Linked DNA regions of Homo sapiens. The protein of the gene in region 4 purifies or fractionates together with the protein of the main gene of each other region. This does not show direct contact. Each region holds a gene or a part of one and is shown on either strand. Other genes may lie near its edges.

Evidence for each region.
Region 1: the proteins of AGTR1 (region 4) and GRK5 purify together in Homo sapiens (affinity purification with western blotting, with the first as the bait; one study listed by BioGRID). This does not show direct contact.
Region 2: the proteins of AGTR1 (region 4) and RAB4A purify together in Homo sapiens (affinity purification with western blotting, with the first as the bait; one study listed by BioGRID). This does not show direct contact.
Region 3: the proteins of AGTR1 (region 4) and PIGU purify together in Homo sapiens (affinity purification with mass spectrometry, with the first as the bait; one large-scale study listed by BioGRID). This does not show direct contact.
Region 5: the proteins of AGTR1 (region 4) and TSPAN15 purify together in Homo sapiens (affinity purification with mass spectrometry; 2 studies listed by BioGRID and IntAct, with this or other methods). This does not show direct contact.
Region 6: the proteins of AGTR1 (region 4) and DCX purify together in Homo sapiens (affinity purification with mass spectrometry; 2 studies listed by BioGRID and IntAct, with this or other methods). This does not show direct contact.
Region 7: the proteins of AGTR1 (region 4) and CLCC1 purify together in Homo sapiens (affinity purification with mass spectrometry, with the first as the bait; one large-scale study listed by BioGRID). This does not show direct contact.

Annotation. Positions count from the first base shown.
Region 1 is NC_000010.11:119,445,071-119,448,570, reverse strand, and holds part of GRK5 (G protein-coupled receptor kinase 5), read right to left. Parts: intron 449-3,500; coding exon 311-448; intron 1-310. UniProt on the Homo sapiens protein: Serine/threonine kinase that phosphorylates preferentially the activated forms of a variety of G-protein-coupled receptors (GPCRs).
Region 2 is NC_000001.11:229,302,111-229,306,394, reverse strand, and holds the end of RAB4A (ras-related protein Rab-4A), read right to left. Parts: intron 3,534-4,284; coding exon 3,418-3,533; 3' UTR 3,406-3,417; intron 2,590-3,405; 3' UTR 501-2,589; downstream 1-500. UniProt on the Homo sapiens protein: The small GTPases Rab are key regulators of intracellular membrane trafficking, from the formation of transport vesicles to their fusion with membranes.
Region 3 is NC_000020.11:34,583,093-34,586,592, forward strand, and holds part of PIGU (GPI-anchor transamidase component PIGU), read right to left. Parts: intron 2,489-3,500; coding exon 2,345-2,488; intron 1-2,344. UniProt on the Homo sapiens protein: Component of the glycosylphosphatidylinositol-anchor (GPI-anchor) transamidase (GPI-T) complex that catalyzes the formation of the linkage between a proprotein and a GPI-anchor and participates in GPI anchored protein biosynthesis.
Region 4 is NC_000003.12:148,739,403-148,742,902, reverse strand, and holds part of AGTR1 (type-1 angiotensin II receptor), read right to left. Parts: intron 3,104-3,500; exon of another isoform or gene 2,947-3,103; intron 1,915-2,946; 5' UTR 1,868-1,914; coding exon 788-1,867; 3' UTR 1-787. UniProt on the Homo sapiens protein: Receptor for angiotensin II, a vasoconstricting peptide, which acts as a key regulator of blood pressure and sodium retention by the kidney.
Region 5 is NC_000010.11:69,503,465-69,505,815, reverse strand, and holds part of TSPAN15 (tetraspanin-15), read right to left. Parts: intron 1,379-2,351; coding exon 1,331-1,378; intron 1-1,330. UniProt on the Homo sapiens protein: Part of TspanC8 subgroup, composed of 6 members that interact with the transmembrane metalloprotease ADAM10.
Region 6 is NC_000023.11:111,325,193-111,328,692, forward strand, and holds part of DCX (neuronal migration protein doublecortin), read right to left. Parts: intron 1-3,500. UniProt on the Homo sapiens protein: Microtubule-associated protein required for initial steps of neuronal dispersion and cortex lamination during cerebral cortex development. May act by competing with the putative neuronal protein kinase DCLK1 in binding to a target protein.
Region 7 is NC_000001.11:108,939,485-108,942,984, forward strand, and holds part of CLCC1 (chloride channel CLIC-like protein 1 isoform 1 precursor), read right to left. Parts: intron 2,015-3,500; coding exon 1,921-2,014; intron 659-1,920; coding exon 561-658; intron 299-560; coding exon 152-298; intron 1-151. UniProt on the Homo sapiens protein: Anion-selective channel with Ca(2+)-dependent and voltage-independent gating. Permeable to small monovalent anions with selectivity for bromide > chloride > nitrate > fluoride.

The DNA.
Region 1 (3,500 bases), on a different chromosome or scaffold from region 4:
GAGTGTTACTGGTTTCACTGGACAGGGAGGAAACTGACGCTTAGAAGGAATCTGTCCAGGACCCCCAGACCTGGGAAAGTGCCCAAGTCTCTGGACAGCCAATGTGGGCTCCCTGGCCCACGCCTCTTCTGCACTGCCTGGCGTGAAGTTCATCTGCAGCTTAGGTGAGGAGTGGCCGGGAGGGGACCCTGGTCCCCACAAAGACACGATGTGCCCCACACTCTGCACCAGCTCACTGTGAGGCAGCACTCGGGGGCAGCCCTGGGTACCCTGTGAAGGGAGCTGCTGGGGGCTGGGGGAGGCTACTCACGTCTGGAACGAAGGGAGGGTCCAACATCCCGGCTTCTAAGCGCTTGAAGTTCATGTTCCTGAAGAAGGGGTGTCTCTTGACCTCTGCAGCCCCCTCCTCCTGGCAGCCCAGCCTCTGCTTCGCATCTTTCGTGAGCAGCTGAAACAGAGAGCCCCATGAAGCCACGTCCCCTGGGCCTCTCCTCCTGTCCGGACCTCCTGCCTCCACAGTGTCTGCACCATGCCTAGGAACCCAAGACACGCTGCCCCACCCTGCAAAGGTCTTGCTTCAGGGCTGCCTCTGAGTCTTGGCGTGCATCTGTGCTCACACACTCACAGCCTGGCTAGATGCCTGATGGGACAGGAGAGCAGGAATCTTGTTTCTCTCAGGATTACAGACCTCGTTCCTGGGTTATGGTGGGCACTCATTAATGGGTGTCGAGTCACTGTCACCTCTTCTGTGTAGGGTAAGCAACAAAAGGCAAGGACTGCATCAATAGCTCTGTCTCGTGCACATACTCAGCTAATTTGCAGAGTTGTACCTCCTGGGTGCAAGCCCCTTCCTGACAGAGAAGGCACCACCGAGGCACTTGGCCTCTAGGAGTGCTCAGACTCATGGGGGGCTAATCATGCTCAGAGGACGCATCAAGGTGATACAGATCGGGCACCCCGGGGGCAGGGGGCATGACTGGCTGCCAGCTGGAGGTCAGGGAGCTGCACGGGGAAGAGGTATTTAAGTTGAGTCTTGCAGGACAAATAGGCTTTCAAGGTGTGGGTAGGGGGAGGGGTATACAGGTAGAGGGAACTGCACCAGCAAAGCAGAGTGGCAGGACGTGCAGGGTGAGTCTGGGGAACACCCAAAACACGTTTGACTTAGAAAGCGGGAGGAGGGTGCAGAGATGGGTCAAGGGGAGGGGGCTGGTCAGGGAGAGATGATAGAGGATCCTGAAGGCCAGGTCAGGTGGCGGGATTTTCATCTGGAGGTAGAAGGAGCCAGGGATGGTTGAGGTAGGAGAGTGTCTTCATCAGAACCACGAGGCAGGAAGGTTACTAGGAGAGGAAGAGTCTTTGGGAGCAGACACCCAGGTGAGACGGGATGAGGCTATGAATGAGGCCAGAGGGCTAGACCTGCGCAGGGGGCCTTGACTAGCCATGGCCAGCCACACGACCACAGGGCCCCGGCCCCTGACCTGCACTCCCAGTGCCCCAGCCTCGTGATTCTCTCTTCTCCTCTGCCTTACTGAGCGCTGCAGCTGTACGCAGTTGGTGTCTACTAAGTGTCTGCTTTGAGGCTAAAATCCAGAGGAGCAGACTGCTTGGGGTAGGGGCCCAGCCTTGTCTTTTCCCAATGCCCTGTGCGCTTTGCTCATATTCATCCCATGTACACTTCCTGCTGGTCCTTGTGGGGCAGGCACTGCACCGGCTGGGGACGCCGGGGAGAGTGAGCAGCCAGACTGGCCTCTTGGGGCTCAGGGTCTGGAGGGGGCTGCCCCCCAAACAAAGGAATCGAAGGTGGCATCAGGGCCAGCACCAGGTTCCACCCTTGAAAGGACAAAGCAGAGCACTCAGTCGCTCAGTGTTGCCCCTTAACGCCCCCACGGACCACCAGGCTGGCGGCTCAGGGTCTGGCACTCATGCCTCTGCTTCTCTCTCTGGGGGCTTCACTGTTCAACAAAGGCTCAAGGCACTGGGTTGGGCTGGGCCCAGGTGCTGCACTGTTCTAAGCAGTCCCTCAGAGGCAAGTCTCCTTCTGCAGGGGCTGCAGCAGCTGGCCAGGAAGGTGGCACAAACGAGGATGAGAAAGGCGAGGGGTGGGCTGGGTGGGCCGGGCCGGGCTATGTGTCAGCTCCTGCCAGGTGGGACGGCAGCCAGGGCCTGGGGCTTCTGCTTTTCAAGAGAAGCCAGAAAATCCAGGTTATTACATGAAATCTCCTCATTTCTAAATCTTGGCAATGAACCTACCATTTACTTCTTTTGAAAAACCGTGTGCAGGTTGAACACCCGCCTATATGCTGCCATTTGAAACCCTGGCATCCAGTCAACAGTTTGCAGCCACATCGTCAGGTAAAGAGTTTGCAATCATGCTATCAGGTGGACACCAGGAGAAGTGAGAGGAAGAGAAGGTGTGAGCTGGGATGGGTGGGGCAGGCAGAGCGGGCTTCCTGGAGGAGGGGTACAGATGGGCTGGAAGGACAAGTGAGACCAAGACGGCTGAAAGGCAAGAGGGAGCTGGAGGGGGGCTAAGGCCCAGTGCTGGGACTGAGCAGGGGTTTGGGGAAGATGGAGGCTGAGGTCTGGGCCCATGGACTGGGCTCAGGAGACAAAGTGGTGAGATGTGTGAATTTCTGGGCTCCAGAGGAGGGGGAGTGGGTTCTGCGGCTGCTAAGGTAGAATGGGGGACAGACCTGGGGGCCAGAGACTGGCTTCCTCACTGATTGTGGAGGGACCCTCTTAGGCAGGCAGGGCTGGAGCCACCAGAGCCTAGAAATAGCCCTGTGAACCCAGGACCTGCGAGGTCTCCTGGCAAGTCAGGCTCTGCAGTGTCCTGAGCTGCCACCAGCTGGAGGGGACAAGGTAGGCCTAGATGCCGGAGATGCTGCAGTCAAGGGCGTGAAGGAGGCCTAAGACTAGACTCCCAAGACCAAAGATCATTTGTAAGGGAAGCCGCAGCAAGGCCAGAGGCTTCCAGAGGACAGTGGTTTTGTACCCACGGGACAGGTCCTCCGGGAGCAGCAGGCTTTCTCTCAGTGTCCACCAGGGGGCAGCAGAGGGACAGCAGCACCCTGGTCCAGGCTGCAGCAGGAGATCCCAGCTCCAAAGCCAGGGGCCAAGGTGGGTGTCTGGGGTCTGGGGGTGGGACTGGGGCCCTCTCCGCCTCGTCATCCTCTTAGTACGTCCCATATCCCTGCTGAGATCTCTCAAGACCTGCTTCTCTGATTGCCTGGCCCTGACCTGGGACATTTGGTGATGCTCTGCCCACGGCTGTCTGACCCCTTCTTCTTTCCCTTGTCTCGTTTTGTCGCACCTGACAGATATCTCCCAATGAGACAGCCAAGTATGGCTCACACCCACATTTCCATTTACCCGACCAGTGCTGCACTGCTCCTCCGGTCCCCCCACCCTAGCCCTGGCTGCGATGACCATGTGGCTTTCTCTGAGGCCCCAGCTGCATGGCGGGCCAACAGCTGTGGGGTTAGAGTGTGGGTCTGCTG
Region 2 (4,284 bases), on a different chromosome or scaffold from region 4:
CTGTCTCTACAAAAAATAAAATTAAAAAAAAAAGAAAGAAAAAGAAAAAAAATGAGGGGGATATATGAAGGAAAAAAGTACATAAATGCTCTTTTAAAAGAAAAAAACAGATTCCCTAACCACATTATTTTCTATCAGTAGGTAGTAGGTAGTGTTTTCTAAACTTTGAGGCTGGTGACCAACAACTTGGGTCACTTGTCCTACTGAAAGTGGTAGATCTTGTGTTCTCAGATAAATTCCTCTAAAATTCTAAAACAACCCTTTAAAGAAATAAATACAATAGGGAAGTAACCAAGTCAACAAGTGGGACAAACTCAGACTGTACGTACAGGAGTAGTTAGATGGATCAGGAAAGAGGTGCTTCACAAATGGCACCACAAAATATTAAAAATTCACAGGTTTTTTTTAAAGCACCTCTAATGTGCCTCTCCAAAAACATAAAAAGATGTCAGAAAATAAGGAAACATCATCTGCTGTGTCACAGTACAAATTACAAATCATTTAGGTTTCTAATTTTAGCATCAGATTCTTTAAATACTATTATTGATCTGCTAAGAATCAATGTTCTTGAATTCAGCCACTCTTATACAAGCCACAAGTAATGTTTTCAACAAAACCATTACAGATTCCCAAATTGTGATGTTCTCATTTTCACTTAAATGCTGGACTGTAAAAGAATAAATTACAATCTCCAGTTTAAATGGTCTTTATAATCTTTTTCTAGGAAGACTGAATAATTACTTTCCTAGAAATCTAAATTAAGAGCTTCCTGAAAACTTAATGAGTTGCGGGAAATAGAAACATGACATTTATTACTAGCCTGAACAATACCCAATTATCTCTCCTCCTCATTCTCCCTAAAGGCAAAGCCTGATTAAGAACCACCATGGTTTGGTTCTCCAGCAACTTTTATTGGCCAAAGGATGCAGAAGGATATATGGTGTCTGTGGTTTAATTAACAGGATCGTTTATAAAACAACTTTACATTTATCTTATTTTTAAAATTCTTGCTTTTGAATAAGCTGATGTGTTAGAATAGACATGCTCCTATCCCATGCAAAAAGCTGTTCAAAAATGAGCAGCTTGCAAATCTATCATAAATGAGACATTGAATAAAATATTCTTACAGTGAGGTCTAAGAAGTAGTTCAGTCTGAGAATTTGCTTCAGATACTTTTTGAAATAAAATATTCAAGGCATAAAAAAAGCAAAACTCAAAATATCTAAAACAGATACATACTGATATTTTTATCCTAGTCATTTCCCAGAGTTTTTATGTGTCTCTGTGCTCTGCTGATTAAAATAAACAACAAAAGCAGTAGGCATCTTCTAACTAAAAGTTAATTTACTAGTCTTCAACTAAAAAGTCACAGTGGAAGAACATATATAAGGTGAAGAAAGCTTTTTAACCTTTCAGATTTAAATAATACTGCATTTCAACTTTAAAGAAAGGTTCCACCATATATTTTTTGCACTGACATTTTAAAATACAAGAACAAGTCTTTGTAATACAATATATACTTCAATATACCCAATATACCTTATATGAATTAAAAACATGTCAACTGGATAACTGTAGTAAGGCATTTAAGTATTCAGCAGAAGCCATAAAGAAATTTCTTAATGAGTGGTGTCCATTTAATATTAACTGGATTTAGTAGGTTTCCTTAAAATGAACAGGAAACAAAAGATGTGAAAAACAGGCAGTGATGCCATTATACTGAATTCCAGAAAAAGCACAGTACAATGTGTTTTCTAGCAGGGAGACCAGCAAACTGGAAGTGGATGAGCGGCCCCAGCTTACATGGTCTATTGTATTTGATCAACTGCTGAGAGAAGTATTAGTAGCCCAGTAGGTTTGGGTAAAGGTACCAGAATCCTTAGTGCTAGTCTCACAGCCAAAAACAGAGCAGGTACTCCAGATATACTTCCTGAACTGACCTGGATGAAGAGGCTTTAAAATCAACAGAGCTGGACAGTATAAAGTTCACGGAAAAACTCAATTTTTCATTTTATTTTGGTATATTAGTGAATGTCTACTGATCTAGTATTTCAAGTGTGGATCACGTAAACACCATGTAGAATGTAGTAAACGGAGTTAAATAAGAAAACACACTGGCTATCAATGCCAGAGTCTTTGAATATCAGGTCATAAATATAACCAATTGTGCAATATAACCAACATGATGAGAAAAGCACACCTCACAATTGACAATTTTAGTTCATATGATTAAAAAAAATAAAATCTGAAACTGCATTTAGTGCCACATTCTATCATATCATACATCAGATTCCATGCTGTGGAGCCGCACTGGGCTACAGGACATACAGTACATATAGCATGTTTTAAACCGAAAGTGAAAGGAAAAATATGAAACAGAAAATTTTTACATACACATCTAACGGTGTTGTCCATTTAATTCGATTTATATGATTTGCTGTGCCACTTTGACTGGCTTGCAGAACACCCCAAATTCTCTTTTCCCCATAAAGATCTACTTCCATACAGAGTAGAAAAAGATGGTGGTAAAAAAAACTTCAGATTCTTCAGGTTCCAACGATTGTGTCCCAAATGCCACTGTATGAACACCTAAAAAATATTAAGAACAATTTCAAAATCTGCATAACTATAAATGCAAAAGTAAATACAGCTTAAAGCCTAAAAGAGAATTCGTGAATATCTTGTCTTTTAACACTTGCCTGTGCCTACTACATGATGTCGACTATAAATAAAACGTCCACTGTGGTAAATGGGAAAAAAGAAGAAGCTTTAAAAAGTTAAAGGGAGACATTTGTCAATTTTATAAATAGGCCTCCTGTTTTAGCAAAAGGCACATTCATTTAGACCTCAATCAATCCAGGAAGGGCTCCTCACTGACATAAGGAATCAGGATATCTCACCCTTCCCATCAACCACCACCTGCCCTTCCTTTCTTTCTGAACAAGAGCATAAGAATTTCCTATAGAGTATAAATTCTTTCAGTTAGAACATCCAACTTTAACTTATGGGTTCTTCTCCTTCTCTTTTTTTTTTTTCTGAGACAGTTCTCACTTTATCGCCCAGGCTGGAGTGCAGTGGTATGATCTTGGCTTACTGCAACCTCCGCCTCCCAGGCTCAAGCAATTCTCCTAAGTTTCATGAGTAGCTGGGACTACAGGTGCACGCCACCACGCCTGGCTAATTTTTTGTATTTTGTAGAGATGATGTTTCACCATGATGCCTAGGCTGGTCTCGAACTCCTGAACTAAAGCAACTGGCCCACCTCAGCCTCCCAAAGTGCTGGAATTAGAGCCACTGCACCCGGCTGGGATCCCCTCTTTTTCATACTGCAGCTTCCCAAAGCTTTAACAGGCCTCTGCACTTGAGCTTGCCAGGAACTCAGGGCAGGGAGGTGTCCAAACCCACCTGTGTGCTCTCCTAACAACCACACTCCTGAGCGTTCGGGGCCTGTGCGCGCCGCGGTGACCTCAGCTGTCTCAAGGCAGCATCTCCGTACTGAATACCTGAGCCCATTCTTTCTGGGTCCAGCTCACCTAAGGACCAAGCAAGTCTTCTTTTAAAAAAGGCTTTTATGTTTCTTTGATTCCAAAAATAGATTAAAAAAAAAAAAAGCAAAGTACAGAACACTGTGTATATATCCCACCATTCTGAATAAAGGGAAAAAACTATATATATGTTTGCTTGCACCGGCACAAAACATCTCTAGCAGGATACATAAGGAACGGCTGATTCGGAGGAGTTCTAGATGGCTGAGGACAGGAGGGGGTGGTAACAGGGGGACTTTTCATTGCATACTCTTTTATACTTCTTGAATTTCAAATTATGTGAATACATTATTTATATAAAATAATTTAAAATTAAATTACAAAGATATAATTTTTCACTTATTAGATGGGCCAAAAGTCCAAGTATGATGATACTACATGCTGTGGACATGGCTTTAGTGAAATAAGCCCATCACTAGGAGAAAATGTGACAGCCTCTACACCAAGATCCCAAATGCTTATGTTCTCTGACCCAGCAATTCCACTTCTGGGCATTTGTCTGACACACAGACTCATGCACATGTAAAAAAAAAAAAAAAATATATATATATATATATATATATATATATATATATATATATATATATATATAATTATTTACTGTAACATTACTTATAATAGCAAAATACTGGCAACAACCCAAATGTCCAAAGTAGACTGGCTCATGAATTATGGTAACACATAGGTTGAGCGGTCCTTATCCAAATATAGGTTGAGCAGTCCTTATCCAAAATACTTG
Region 3 (3,500 bases), on a different chromosome or scaffold from region 4:
TGAGATGTGCAGACAAACATGTCCACACCCAGAATGCTCCAGTGCTGCTGTGCAGCAAGTGCCTCAGAAACGCAGCTTGGCAAAGGCGTGCAGCCCTGTAGCCTCTAAGAAGCGTCCAGCTATAGCTCAGTGTGAACATCTTCCTAAACACAATCCACATCACTGGCTTCAGGCTTTTCAGGTAGCTGGTAACAACGGCAACATTTCTATGAAAAGGCTGGTGAAAATGCGGTGACAAAAAAACAGACTACAGCCTCCTGCAGCACTGCACAGGGACTGGGGTGGCCTGAAGGGCCCTGTTCCTACAAAGCTGGCACTGGAAACAAATCTTGCAGGGGGCAGGAGAGCTTAGGTAGAGCTTCATACCCAGGCAGAAGAGAAGACAGCAGGGAGAGCAGGTCTCTTCATATTTTCTGTCCCCACAACTGTGTGGGCCTGGCTTAGGTCATAAAATGGTGACATTATTGCCTAGCCAGGAGCAATGTGTGGCTTTGCATGCAGACAATAAAAGCTGCCGGAGAGCTGGCTGCACGGCCAGTGCGGAAAGGTGCCCTGGGATCCCTGCTCCTCTTCACCCCATGGCTGGGCCTAACCGGAACAAGGACAGGGAAGGTGGACCACAGACAGCTGGAGAGCTCAGCTGGGCAAGGCTGCCAGAGTTCCGGAGCCTGCCAGGCCATGGAAGGAGGGTGTTCTGTCAGAAGCCAGGCCAAGGCTGTGTCATGGGAAGGAAGCATCAGCTTTTGAGATTTTACAGAATGGGAACCACGTGCATTGGTGCACAGACCATGGAGAATGGCAGGAAGGTTAGGACAGAGAACTTGAGCTCTTGAAACCTAAATCAAACTCTTTCAGGTTCCCCAGACCATCTAGGCGTATCTGTACCTGTCTGTGTCTGTTTTCCCTTATCTGAAGCTAGGATAATAGAACCATTTCCGGAGGCTACTAAAAGCAATCTCTCCGGAGCTTGGCATGGTGCAGGGGGATAAGCATAGATTCTGGAGCCAGACAAACCTGAGTCTAAATCCCAGCTCCACTGCTTACTAGCTGTGTGACTGGGAAAATCATCCCACCTCTCTGAGCATCGATTTCCTCAACTATAAAATGGGAGTGATAAGAATCTAACGCCTACCTCCAGGAGTTGCTAGGTTAGGTATGATTATGTTTCAGAGGGTCTAGAAAGGCACCTGGAATGGAGCAGGCCTAACATCTATCAGCTCTCTTAGACTGCAGAAGAGGACTCCACACATCCTTTGGAGGGAAACAGATCAGGAGATTAAACAGTTGCAGGTGGCCAGCCTCCCAACTAAACCATCCAGAGTCCCTGTGGAGGACCTGTCACTGGGCTGTTGATGGAGACATTCCACCAGATACACTTTTTCCAAACACACTCCCCTCCACAACTCCTGTTCTTTTTTTTTTTTTTTTTTTTTTTTGAGACATGCACTTCCGCCTGTCATCCAGGCAGAAGTGCAGTGGCACAAGCAGCTCGCTGAAGCCTCAAACTCCCGGGCTCAAGTCATCCTCCTGCCTCAGCCTCCCAAGCAGCTGGGACTACAGGGGCACACCACCACACCTGGCTAATTTTTGTTGTTGTTGTTGTTGTTTTTGTTGAGATGGAGTCTTGCTCTGTCGCCCAGGCTGGAGTGCAGTGGCACAATGTTGGCTCACTGTGACCTCTGCCTCCTGGGTTCAAGCAATTCTCCTGTCTGAGCTTCCAGAGTAGCTGGGACTATAGGCACCCGCCACTATACCTGGCAAATTTTTGTATTTTTAGTAGAGACAGGGTTTCACCATATTGGTCAGGCTGATCTCCAACTCCTGACCTCAGGTGATCCACTCGCCTTGGCCTCCCAAAGTGCTGGGATTATATGCGTGAGCCACTGCACCCAGGCAGCCACCTGGCTAATTTTTAAATTTTTTGTAGATACAGGATCTTGCTATGTTGTCCAGGCTGGTCTCAAACTCCTGGCCTCAAGTGACCCTCCTGCCTCAGCCTCCTGAAGTACTGGGATTACAGGTGTGAGCCACCATGCCTGGCCACCGCCTGGCTCTAGTCCAAAACAGTGAATGGGCTCAGCAGCAATGTGGACTTGAGCACCTCAGAGTGAGGCCAGGGAAAATGCTGGGGCTCCAAAGCACCCTCACTGCAGCCTGCACCCATGCGACTCTATTGCCTGCTATGGCGCTGGCAACTGCGGCAACTGAAGGCAGGTTCCTTAGGTGAGATGCTCTAAACCTGACAGCAGGTGCTCCACATTTGAAGGCCACCCTCAAGGCTACTAGAGGCAGGGGCTTCTCGGACAGCTCTGTACACACAGCAGCAGCAGGTCCAGCCACTTACTTTAGCTTTATGGCTAAGGGGATGGTGTAGAAGAAGACGTTGATCTGAAACACACATACAAAGAAGAGGCTGAAGTGCTCAAACATCTCTGCAAAGAAGTACCAGAAAAGACCAATGTTTGGAGTGAGATCTGGAACAGAAAGTCTGGAATTAAGAAAACAAAGGGAGAGAAAAAAGACAAAAGTTATAAATTGTCTGCTTTGACCTTGATTTCTCCTGAAGACTTTGGTCACTGCTGGGCAGCCAAGGACGACTTTCTCCCTAGAGAGATCAGGATGGGAAGGGCTCTCTAGGTACCCTGGATACAGGTAATTAACAAAAATGAGCAGAGACATATAATGATAACCCATAACAAATATTAGCTAAGCCAAACAAATCTGAAATGAGGCAGGGATTCATCCTAGGAATAAAGAGACTCACCCCTGTTTTACTGCGCAAGACAGTTTAAAATCAGGAGATACCCAGTACTGTAACAAATGAGTTTTAAAACACAGGATCTATTTTGGGCATTCTAAAGACCTGCCTAGAGGACCACGCTCAAAGATCCTGCTCCTCCCCATTCTTACTCCACACCCCACAGCAGGAGTCAGAAAACCGAGTGCCTGAGACCGAAGTGAGACTTCTAGGGGCTTTAGGAACAATCGGTGGGTTCTGGCTAAGATCCCCAGGGTCCCAGTCTTAATTGAGAAATTAGGGTTTAACTGGAAAACTTTTTGTCCAATTAAATCAGACAAATATTTCGCTGCAATTCTGGCTCTCCTAAAGTTTACATTTTTGATTTAAAAAAATATGAAGTTGAAACTGATCTCAATACACAATTCAAAAAGGACAACAAATAGGGCACGCAGAGGGAGAGATGAGTGATGGCTCTTGGTCAGATTTCCCTGACTGAGGCCTCCGCCCAGGTTAACTTTTGCCTCTTGCTGTAACTATACCTCCTTTTCTGGGAAATGAGGTAAAGAACACAATCCGTGGCCCAGGAGAAAGAACTCTTCACCTGGCACCGCAACTCCTATCTAAGGCAGAGCATGAAGAGCTGAAGTTAGCAAGTCATTGTTATGCTCAGCCAGGATTTAACACAAATAAGCAGTCCAGAATTCCAAATGGGAGTTCTGCCACTCAGATCCCTTCCACACATGCACAGGTTTAAGAGTCT
Region 4 (3,500 bases):
AGAATATATACTTTTTTTAAACAGGAAGGCATACTTTATGATATATAATCTTTTTACCACAAACTATATACACTTCTCAGATATTAAATCAAACTAATATACTAGGAAGACACTACTACTTGGGACCAGTGCAGCACCTTTACAAGTAGTTTAACTTTTATATGTGACTTTAGTAACACCATTATACAAATAAGCCATCTTACGGGCATTGTTTTGGCAGTGGAAACCTATAAGACACAGGTTGAATTTCACAAAAAGATCTGCAACTTGACGACTACTGCTTAGCATATCTTTGTACAAAATGTGCAGTACCAGGTGCAAGTGTAGCACAGTTGCTAATAGCTGAAAACCGGCACGAAAACTTTACTGCCCTTTGGAAACTGGACAGAACAATCTGGAACTCTCATCTCCTGTTGCTCCTCTAACGATTTAATATATTCTAAATACCTTTATGTGGAAATAAAAAATAACAGGACAAAAGCAGGCTAGGGAGATTGCATTTCTGTCAGTAAAATTTCTCAAATCAACACATTCATCGAGTTTCTGACATTGTTCTTCGAGCAGCCGTCATCTGTCTAATGCAAAATGTGGCTTTGCTTTGTCTTGTTGCAAAAGGAAAGAAAAGCTTTTGTTCAGAGCTTTAGAAAAGTCGGTTCAGTCCACATAATGCATTTTCTCCTTCAATTCTGAAAAGTAGCTAATGCTCATTTGGTAGTGAAGTGCTGCAGAGGAATGTTCTCTTGCTCCTTCTTTCACAAAATTACTTTATGGACAGGTTTCGAACATGTCACTCAACCTCAAAACATGGTGCAGGCTTCTTGGTGGATGAGCTTACATTATCTGAGGGGCGGTAGGAAAGCGTGCTCATTTTTGTTGAAAGGTTTGAGTGGGATTTGGCTTTTGGGGGAATATATTTTAGAAGCTGGAGAAAATATCTTTTAAATTTTTTCCCCAGAAAGCCATAAAAAAGAGGATTCAGGCAATTGTTAAAATAAGCTATACAAATGGTGATAGGCATGGCCGTGTCCACAATATCTGCAATTCTACAGTCACGTATGATGCCTAGTTGAATCAATACATCCAGAAAAGTGAATATTTGGTGGGGAATCCAGGAAAAGAAAAAGAAAAGCACAATTGCCATAATTATCTTAAAAATATCATCATTTCTTGGTTTGTTCTTCTGAATTTCATAAGCCTTCTTTAGGGCCTTCCAAATAAGAGTATAACTTGTAAGAATGATCAGAAAAGGAAACAGGAAACCCAGTATATTTTTGGTCAGGCCCAGCCCTATCGGGAGGGTTGAATTTTGGGACTCATAATGGAAAGCACAAACTGTAATATTGGTGTTCTCAATGAAAAATACATTTCGATGGATTATAGCTGGCAAACTGGCCAAGCCTGCCAGCAGCCAAATGATGATGCAGGTGACTTTGGCTACAAGCATTGTGCGTCGAAGGCGGGACTTCATTGGGTGAACAATAGCCAGGTATCGATCAATGCTGAGACACGTGAGTAGAAACACACTAGCGTACAGGTTGAAACTGACGCTGGCTGAAGCAATCTTACATAGGTAATTGCCAAAGGGCCAGCGGTATTCCATAGCTGTGTAGACAGCCCATAGTGGCAAAGTCAGTAAAAAGCATAAGTCAGCCAGTGCTAAATTCAAAAGAAAAACACTGGCCACAGTCTTCAGCTTCATATAAAAGTAAATGACTATCACCACCAAGCTGTTTCCAAATATTCCCACCACAAAGATGATACTGTATAAAGTAGGAATCATGACAAATATGTAATTATGCCTTCCAGCTTTGGGACAATCATCTTGGATTCTTTTAATACCATCTTCAGTAGAAGAGTTGAGAATCATTTTGATCACCTGGGTCGAATTTGTTGCAAACACTATATCAAATACACCTGGGGAAAATAAAAATAAAATGGTAAAGAAAAAATTCTTATTGTAAACAAACAAACTAACAAACATTCATTTCTCAGTCATAAACGTAGTAACTCAACTTTAGTCTTAGGAAAAAATACTGGATCATATTTCTTAAGGAAACACTGTGAACTGATAAAGCCTAAGAAAGCACACTTAAATTTTAGAACATAATTGCTTTTGTAGAAAATGGTATCATCCAGAGAAGTGAAATTGGGATTCTATGTGAATAAACCTATCTAGGTCCTTTTCCTTTTTTTCTATAAGTAAATCTTGGTTTCCAAATTGATTAAAAACATAACCTAAATCTTAGAAAATACTACTGAATTAAATTAGTTTTTCAGAAAGACTTGAAAGTTTTTCCTGAGGTAAGCAGGACCAATTCATTTATCATTAACCTCAGAAGTGTGACACATTCATATTCTTTAAACCATTTCTTTCCTCTCACAATCTTTACTTAGGTATAAAGATTATAAGTATTCTCCCTTAAGTGGTCAGGATAGCTGCCTTTAGGTGACTGACAAATTGGTCACTGTGGCAATTGATTTAAGAGGCGTAGGAGGTAGGGCTCGACTTTGAGGAATAGGATTTTTTCCATGGTTTTCCAGGCCTCTGCAGTCAGTAACTACTTACTCTTTAACTTCCAATTCAGTCTAGCAAAAGTGCATGAATCTTCTAACCTTCATACCTGCCAGCCATTTCTGAAGTTAACTCTGTGGTTAACCATTTGTGTAACAAAGATGTCAAATGAATAGGTTTGGCTAGGATTATCAAGAAAGCATGTCTTTACTGAGGGCTTGAGAAAGCAGCAGGTTTTTTAGAATTCTGGGGAGAATCAGATGCTCAAGAATGGGCTGCACAAAGCCATGCAAATATTTGCTCTGATTTTCTACATAATCAACAGTCAAGCTATTCATTTATGTGATTTAGAAAATCAACACATTCTGCCCTGGATAACAGTCCATCAGGAAGTCCCAGGAAGGAGGCTGAAGGTTCAGTGAGAGTGACATCACCGAATGTGGTACAGCCACACTCTGAGGTGAAGGTCAGCATTGGGCACAGGCCAGGACAGCTAGGTGGGCAGTGGTGCTGGGCACACAGATCCTATTGCTCTACCAGGAGCAGGTCCCCAGATGAACATGGCTGAGCATTCTCTTGCAATGGCATGCCCTGGGGAAAAAGAGGAGCAGAAATAAGACACCACTGCCATGCCAAGCATGGTTGTGCTTGGCATTCAGGAGAGCTGAACACATGTTCTTAGAGTAGTGTTCACTTTGGTGCAAAGGGATGCTGTGCAAGGGATACAACTCCAGTAGTCAGCTTTTAAGACATAACACATGTGAAGGAGTTCTTAAGTGGTCTCTTTGCCTTCCCTGAGTAAGTAAAGTTGTTCTCCCTATGTAAGTTTTTGGTTGCATGTCCTCATTATTGTTCCTTTTTGCATCCAGCTTATATAATGTACATCCTTTTCTTCTTTGACTCACCAGGACATTAGTATCCACAAACAGGTGTTATCTACCCTAAATGTCACATCTTTGGTGAAGCCTTCCCAACTTTTTTGAGCACT
Region 5 (2,351 bases), on a different chromosome or scaffold from region 4:
GATGTCCCTGCATGAAAAGCCTCACGGATGTTTTCCATACATGAAAAGCCTATTTATAATTATCCAAGCCAATAGCCCCACTCCAGGTACATATAAAAAACAAAGCAGAGTTGGGCATGGTGGCCAGTGCCTGCAGTCCCAGCTACTATGGAGGCTCAGTTGGGAGGAGTGCCTAAGCCTAGGAGTTTGAGGCCAGCCTAGGCAACAGTGAGACCCTGTCTGTCTCTTAAGGGAAAAAAAAAAAAAAAGCATTTCTGCATTGGTTTTAATATACAAAGAATTTTCCAGAAGTACTACTAGGTAAATTAAGGAATGATTACACATTATTTAATTCAGAACTTTATCAAGAATTGTTCACCGTTTTTAAAAACCATGCCAGTGGCAAAAATGATGCCCATGGTATGTGAGTCGCCAACACAATGCCCAGTATCAGCTGCCCTGTAGCTACTACAGCCTCAGGGATGCCTCACATCAGTGCAGACACCTGACTACATTGTGTCTTCTGCACCCCCCACTGCCTAAGCACTTACATGATGAACTATGTTAAACAGCTGTAAATTGCTGTATTTCATTTCTACTTTATCTCAGATCATTATGTTAATTGTATTGGAATTGGGCATGTAGGTAGGTTATCTGTGAATTTCACTTGGGGATAATAAATAGGACATTACCACTGTTTGTTATAAAAATGGCCATTGGTTCTGAGGGGCTGAGAACCACTGCTGGTCTATGGCTCTCAAGCATGTGTCAGAATCACCCACTAGCCCCATACCAAGAATGTGCATTTCTCACATTCCTAGGGGATGCTGTTGCTGCTGGACTGGGGACCCCACTTTGAAAGCCACTGCTCTGCATGTCAGGTCACTATTCCTTTTAGGTCCCTTCTCAGCACCACCCCTGCTTCTCTCCTAGACCAGGGGTGTTGCCCAGGAAGCTGACCCAGGAGCAACCCCCAGAGGGGGTTACCATCCTCTAGGACTCCTGGGTCCCAGGTGGCCCCAGGGGCAGAGGCAAGCTGGTGCTGAGCATGGCTGGGCACACAGCACGCTGCGGGTACCAGGAAGCGCCGTGGTGGCTTCATGTGGAACAGCCCACAGTAGGTGCTCGGCAAACCCTGACAGGCGGCATCTCCCAGCCTGGGGGAATTCTTGGTTCCCTGAGCCCTTCTGTGCTGGGGTGGAAAACCACAGCAGTCCTGGCTCTGGGTCACAGCCAGGAATGTGGGAAAATCTCAGTGGCCAGGACCCCGACCTCAATAAACCCCTCCGATCACCCCAGGGTGGACCAGGAAGAGCAACATTTCCAGGGAAAGGCATTTCAAAGACATTACCTCCTTGTCGATAGTTTTGTAGCCACACATGGTGTTGACAACTTCTGTCTGAAATGGAAATGTATAATAGCTAATATTTATAATGGTTCTAACTCAAAAAGGCACTATTATCCTACCCATTTTACAGATGAAAACCGAAGCACAGAGTTGCACCGTCCAGCAGGGATGGAGCTGAGATTCCGACCCAGGCAGTCTGGCTTGAGTCTCCATCATAACCACCTCCTCCTCCAAGAAATGCCCCGTGAAAAAACTGTAGGAATGCAGGTTCCATGACTTTTACCTGGGAGAACCACCCCTCCACTAGCAGCAGATCAGGACCCCAGAGAAAGGTGTGCTGCCCACGCTCCCGGGCTATGACCGCCCCAGAGCACCGCTTTGCTCACACCGTCTCAGAGGTCGGGGTGGGGCTGTTCCTGCGCCGCTGGCTCTTGGGGAGGAAAACTTCAGACTACAGCTGGCACAGGGTCAGCTGTGGTTTACCTGAGGTCCAGGGCAGGGCCCCTGGCCATGCTTCCGTTCCATAGACCACTGCTCCACCAGCGGAGAGTGCTGCCAAAACTTCCTTCTTGGGAAGAGAGGTGCTCTCCAGAACTCCCGACTACTGATTAATTTAGGCATAGGGAAACCTGTGGTCACGCCCTAGACCTCATCAAACCCCTCCCCAGGCAGGCCCTAACTCACAGGCTGCCGCGGGCACTTCCCATCACCACCTGTGCCCCGCAGGGTCTCCTTCTCCAACCACCAGGGAAGAGAGTGAGACTTCCTGGTCCAGCCCATGACCGTCCCCCCCAGCCCCGCTGCTCTACATGTAAGTGAACGCTGCCGTGAGTGCTGCAGGCGCCAGTGATGACTCAGGAGGGCAACAGCAGAGCCCCCAGCGTGCCCTCTGGTGTCACATTTCCTGGGTCCAGATCTTGCTCTGCCACTTAGGAGCAGAGCCCAACCTTAGGTGGGCTGCTAAGGAACTGGCACGCAGAGGTACTCAATACATATTTGTTAACTGAGAAAATGAATGAATGAA
Region 6 (3,500 bases), on a different chromosome or scaffold from region 4:
AGACACCAACCCACCCCTTGCCTTTCCACCTCCCTAGCCTGGAGATGGGAGAAGGGGAAAAGAAGCCAAGAAGCAAGGACCATCCAACGTAGACCTTTGCATTCACCAGACAGCACATCCCACATACTAACTACTGTGTGTCAGTGGGACACTGCGAATAATGCTTGTTGGGAAGTCAGGAGAGCGATGTTCTGGCTCTTGGGTGCTAAGTAATGTGTGACATGGAAGATCCCAAGATCCTAAACTTTGTATCTTAGTTCCCCAATGAAAAAAAAAGATAATTATCAATTTCCAACTTAATTCATAGTGCAATTATGAGGAACAACTGAGGTAATAGATTTGGAAATATTTTGCAAAGTGCATAGCATCTAATTCACGTAAAAAGATTGTTATCATGAATCTCTCTTAGCTAGAGAAGAAAGGTATTCTTGTGCTGTTTAAAACAGTAGCCAATAGTCACATGGCTGTTGAACATTTGAAGTGCGGCTAGTCAGAACTGAGATACGTTGTAAGTGTAAAATACAACTCAATTTCAAAGAATGTGTAATTTATTACATTAATTATATGTTAAAATGATAATATCTTGAATGTATCATTATATGAAATATGTCAAAATTAATTTTGCCCATTTTTTAACTTTTTAAGATGTGGCTACTAGAAAATGTAAAATCACATACATGATTTACATTTATGGCTCACATTCTATTTCTATTGAGCAGAGCTGGTCTAGACAGTCACTTTCAGGAAGGTCAGAATGACCAAGTCCCTCTATCTTAGGCAACCCAAAGCAGCCTACTAGTTTCAGAAAAGAAGGACCCTGGGATACAGGTCTTTCATGAACCCTGCTGTTTTGTGTCCCTTGACCTCCCCTTCTAAAGGCTGTATATTTTGTTAGAGAAGGCTTTCTTTCTTATGAATTTGGGAACGGAAAAGATCGGACTTTCAGAAATAGGTGCACATGAGTTGGGGGAAGGGGAATGGAGAACATTGGATTGCTACAACAATGACTTACTGTTGAAGAATAGCAAACTAATTATCACATTACAATTCTCTCAGCCTACCAGGGTGGGTAATTAGCTTCCTTCGGGGGCTCCTTAAAAAAAAAGAAAGAAAGAGAAAGATTCCTTCCCAGCAACTAGCTATTTTGTCCTTTTAATTCAATTCAATTCAACTGGGGACAAAGTTACATAAAGGGAAAATTAACACATTAATGGCTGAAATGGAAACAGAGAGAGACATGTCTTTCTTTAGTTCTGAAGCCAGGCTTACCTTCGCTCATCAAAATGGCAAGTCCGGGGTTAATCAAAGTGTGGCACTGCATAAGCTTTTTTCAAATATCCCATAGGAGCCTCCTGGGCTCAGATTTTATCTTTTTTACCACAGTTCCATGGCCTGATTTAAAGACAGACATAGCTAATATGACTTGGATTCTAAGAGTCCATCAGTTCTGCCCGGTGAAAATGAGCTCCTTACAGAAATATTATATAGACAACAAAATCCTTACTTAACTTGAGTTTAGGGCTTAGCAACAGACATTCCATTTGGGGCAAACTCAATATTGGCAGAAGTGAGGATTGAACTTGAAGGAAATAAAGTAGAAGGATTTGATTTATTCATGGGGCAGAACAGGAAAGGGACAACTTAAGGTCTAAAGACTAAGGAATAAAGAATCAAATTATAGCACAAATTACAGACCAAATAGCATCAATTTACTAAACCTCAAGTCAGAATGAACCTAGCTATTAACTGAACCATGAATTTGACCATATAGATATAGATATAGATATCTAGCAAACTTGTTCAAACCAGAATCAAACCTGTATATTTTCCAATGAAGTAGAACATCAAAACATTCCTTAAACTGAACCTGAACCCAGCCAATGTTTCATTTGGTTAGAATTCCTGCTAAAGAGGAGCACTTTTGGTCTTTCTTTTGTCTTCAAAGGAAGACAATCTTCCATTGGTCTATCTTCCATAGACTTGGATTCTAAGAGTCTTTTGTTACTCAGGTTGAAAGAAGTTTTATAAATCTGTTCACAAGTTCCACATCCAAGACTGACTAACACAGGATGGAAACAGGGTGGTACTACCATGTCCTAGAAATGAACAAAGCCTGTTTGCCCCACCTAACCTATTATCATTTGGTTAAGTGTATTTTAACCTCTACATGTCCCTGGCTAACAGCTAAAAAAAATTGACATTTTATGAAACAATTGTTACTTTTTAAATCTCAAATGTCTGTAAGGAGAAATTTATGCCATATGAAAAGTATGCACTGTCTATAGCTTATCATTCTGGTTATCCGCTTTTGTTTCTGTGGGAGCTATTTTACAACTCTGTAAATTGTAAATAACTGATAACAATGGAAAATTATCCTTATCTATAGAGATTCAAATTCTGAATTATCTAACGATGATATCGAATCTCAGAAAAGGCAAAAATCTTGCACAAATCACAAAGCTAGGAAGTGGCGTAGCTGGGACTTCTTAGAGAGTCATCTCCCTCTCCTCTTTCATATCTTACCAATCTCCTCGTCCCAGCTTGGAATGGTCCTGAGTGAGGTGGAAGTGGAGAGGGAAAATGGGTATAGCAAATCCAAACTTTAGCTAAGGTACTGTTTTGCCTGAGATCAGCTTTGCCCTTATGGAATGTTCACTGAATGGATGCCTTGGACTAGGCTTTAAACAAACTCCGATGAAATGGGCTTGGTTATGTTACAGCCCTTCAGGGTTGGAATCATGAGGAGGCTATAGACACATTATCTGAGATGAGCCCAAACATTCTGGCAATTGCCATAAAGATTGTCTAGACTAGGGTTTGACTTCATTTATGTTCATGAACATCAGAATATAAATGAATATTCCAATTCTTTAAACTGAGAACACCATGTTAGATTGGTGGTAGGAAACAGAGGTTATTTGTAATTCTGCTATCTGCCAAGCAAATTCCCCTCATACACCCAAATTGGTTACTCTGTTTATCGTGTGGGTTGGAATAAATCCTCATTTCTTTTTTTCTTTTTTTTTAGTGAAGGAGTTATGAAAAAGCAAGAGCAGATCTTGCCTGCCAAAGCCTGGGTTGGGATCTCTTATATTGTAACTCCCTTCAATTTGACAAATATTCATTGAGTTCTAATATATTCACGTTATATCTCTGATATTTTAGAGTCACTGAGGTGCATATTTTGTAGAAGGGAAATTCTGTAGGTGGCATTCTGGAGATCAATGATTTGACATAGATTTAAACTGTGTAGTTATAGGTAGTTGTGTTCATGTGTGCTGGGTAACCAATTGGATGCAGTCTGCAAAGAGGATCTATTTACTTCAAGCTGATACCACCTGAGAATTTCTAACTGATGGGTTATATGGTGGTTTAAAAACAGATCTACAAATTCTTCAACACTCTTTCCTTTAATAAATAGAGTCTGGTTCCTCTCTCTTTGAATGTAGGTTGGACTTAGTGACTGCTTCCAATGAATATAATAAAGGAGAAGTGACAGT
Region 7 (3,500 bases), on a different chromosome or scaffold from region 4:
TTTTTTAGTAGAGACAGGGTTTCACTGTGTTAGCCAGGATGGTCTCGATCTCCTGACCTCGTGATCCGCCCGCCTAGGCCTCCCAAAGTGCTGGGATTACAGGCGTGAGCCACCGCGCCTGGCCCGACAGTGCTAATATATTAATACTAACCAGGATGGCTAATGCCATAATTATCAGCACTGGAAGATGAAGCAGCGCTGGAATTTCCTTCATGAGTGCTTTAATAAATTCCCCAGTTCCTTTTCCAATATGCTTCAATGGCTCCGTTACAAATGTGGTGAATGTAACTGCAAGTGCCTAAAACGAGAGAAAAGCAACTTAATTTTCTCCTCACAGGACTAAGGTACAGAATGCATCAAAATTCATTGAGTACTGATGCTGAAAGTATGTTACATAAATTAAAATGCTGTTGTGCCATTTTTAATGTGAAAATCACTGTGCAAAAGTATTTTTTCTTGGACAAACGCTTATTAGCAAAATGACTCAAACACTAAAGTTCTTTAAAATACAAGGGATTTCTGACTGACTTTAAGTAATTTTTACAAAATATATGCTATACCTTTGTTGGTGGGACCAACCAAATAGGGTTGACTAGTAAGAGCTCATAGTATTTTTGGCATGGGTCATCCTTATAGGTCCATGAACTTCTAAACCATTCTGTTTAGAGAAACAGACAAAACACTGATCATTTCTTTTAATGTTGCATTTCATTCCCAAACAAGACATTACTTTGGTTTTGACCCTCCCTGACCACCCACCAATGAGTTTTAAATTATCTTAAGTTTTAAGTAGACTCCCTGTAATGCTGATTTTTAAATTTTTCATCTTATGTCCAAAATCATGTTTTAAAAATCCATTCAAATTATACATGTTTTATGCAGATAAAAAATTGTATTTTATAAAAATGTCTAAAAGGTAAACACTTTAAAAGCAATGCTTCACAAACACAAATGAGTACAGGTAAAATGGGAAGTCGAAATAAGACTGGTGGATTGTATCAAAGTCAATATCCTGGCTCTGATATTGTACTATTAAAGCTGTGCAAGATGTCACCACTGGAGGAAAATGGGGAAAGGGTACACGGGCTCTCTCTGTAGTATTTCTTACTGTGTGAATCCACAATTACCTCAGTAAATTTTTAATTTAAAAAGTCAGTTCTTTATGGAGTTTACAAAATAAAGTGGAATATTAGTTCTAATTTTTCCAAATCAGGCTTATATACGTTGGGAAACTAGCCTGAGCTAGAGGAGGCATTTCACTGTCCACTGAAGCCAGGAAGGAAGGCTGAATTGGTTTAGTTCCCACAACTTTTTAAGAAACATTTATTTTGGATTCCATCTGCAGAATTCCGTGTCAGTCATGGACTTGCATTTATAAAATGCCTTGGAACATTATTAAACCATCCCCATTGCTAGATACATACAACCAAAGGTAGTGAACATTCATGAGAATGTTTATAAAATGTGAAAGAATAAAAAAACTAATTTTTCCCGTAGTTAAAAAAAAGTAAAGCTACAACATAAAATTTCACAAGTCAATATAAGGCCATTAAATTTAAGATGGATATTAATTCATATATACATTCATTCACTTGTTTAATAAACTTCTATTGAGAATATGCCAGACCCTGTGCAAAGAACGAGATGAACAAAAGCGAGCATAGGATCCTTCACACAGTCTTATGAAGGAAGACAGATAATATCAGAGCCAACATATATACAACTTCTATTCCTTCCCTGTGACTTTAGATGAGCATAAAAAGTCACTGGTTTTAAACCTAAAATGCTTCTTGCATGTTCTTCTGATATTAAAGATTCAGTCATGGAAAGCCTCCTGTTATTTTATCATTCTCTTTGTTCTATGTTCTTTCATTCTCAGAATTTCTATTCAAAATAAGGACAAGTGCACAAACACCTTACCCCAGATACTTCCAGTCCAGTCCATCTTTTTGGCACACACATTGTTTAATGGCTCCATCTTGGCGACTTCAGCCTGATGCTGTGCAAAAGCTAGCTGCCCAACACCAAAAGGGAACCAGGAGAGGCCGTTACCTATGAAGGTTAGGCCTACACATCCAAAAGACCTTCATTCAAAGAGTGTCTTTACCATTCATCCAAACCAGACTGTTATAAATTTTTAATTAAAAAAAAACATATTATTATTACTATTTTTTCTCTTTTTTTCCTGAGACGGAGTCTCGCCCTGTCACCCACGCTGGTGTGCGGTGGCACAATCTCGGCTCACTGCAACCACCACCTCCCGGGTTCAAGCGATTCTCCTGCCTCAGCTTCCCGAGTAGCTGGGATTAAAGGTGCCCGCTACCACGCCCAGCTAATTTTTGTATTTTTAGTAGAGACGGGGTTTCATCATGTTGGCCAGGCTGGTCTTGAACTCCTGACCTCAAGTGATCCGCCCGCCTCAGCCTCCCAAAGTGCTAGGATTATAGGAAAACATATTATTTGTAAAGAGTAGCTATTTCCAGTTCATGGAAAAGTACAGCCTTAATGCAACAAGTAAGCATAAAGTACTAACTACAATTGCCTTCTCTGTAAGTAATTATAATGAAAAAGGGAAACTTTACTAAAAATATTGTTTTTAAAAATTAGTTCAGCCAGGCGTGATAGCACGGGCCTGTAGTCCCAGATAGGAGGCTGAGGCAAGAGAATCGCTTGAACCCGGGAGGTGGAGGTTGCATTGAGCCGAGATTTCACTACTGCACTCCAGCCTGGGGGACAGAGTGAGACTGTCTCAAAAACAACAGCAACAACAACAACAATTAGTTCTAGCCATACAAATTAAATGACTACTTCTTATTTTCTTTTATAGTTGATGATATCCTATTTTGCACTGGATAATTTCCAGTACAATGACCAATATACAATCATTAAGGTGACAATACTCAAGCAACTTTCCTTCCACACAGAATCTGTGTTTAATTTGTAAATAATTAGTTCTAAATACTATAATACTTACAGCAAAAGGTTAAGGAAATGTCACAATGCTTTAACCAGATGAAATCATTGAAAATACTTGGCTACTTGACTCACTCTGCTAGAAAGATCTAAAATTTTCTTTCAATGATTATTATTTATGCTATGTTGATGGGAACAGTAGTGGTCCTTTCCAATTTCTATATACAGTATGATCCCAACTTTGAAAGATAATTAAAATCTAGAAAAATCTAGAAAGAAATACCTTAAACTACTGACAGATTTTCTCTAGGTGATAAAATTATAGGTTATTTTAAAAATTAATTTCCTTGTATCTGCCTTTTCTAAATTCTCTGCCATGAATATACCACTTATTCAAAAAATAACCTAATTTTTAAAAAATAATATTTTGGTATCATTTCTAGCAAAGACATAGAATGACATACTCTAAATTACCTACATGATAATTTTTAAATGTATCCACATAGCTTTATTCTTTTTTTTTTCTTCCTTGTTTTTGAGACAGACCTCACTCTGTGGTCCAGGCTGGAGTGCAGCAGCGCAATCTT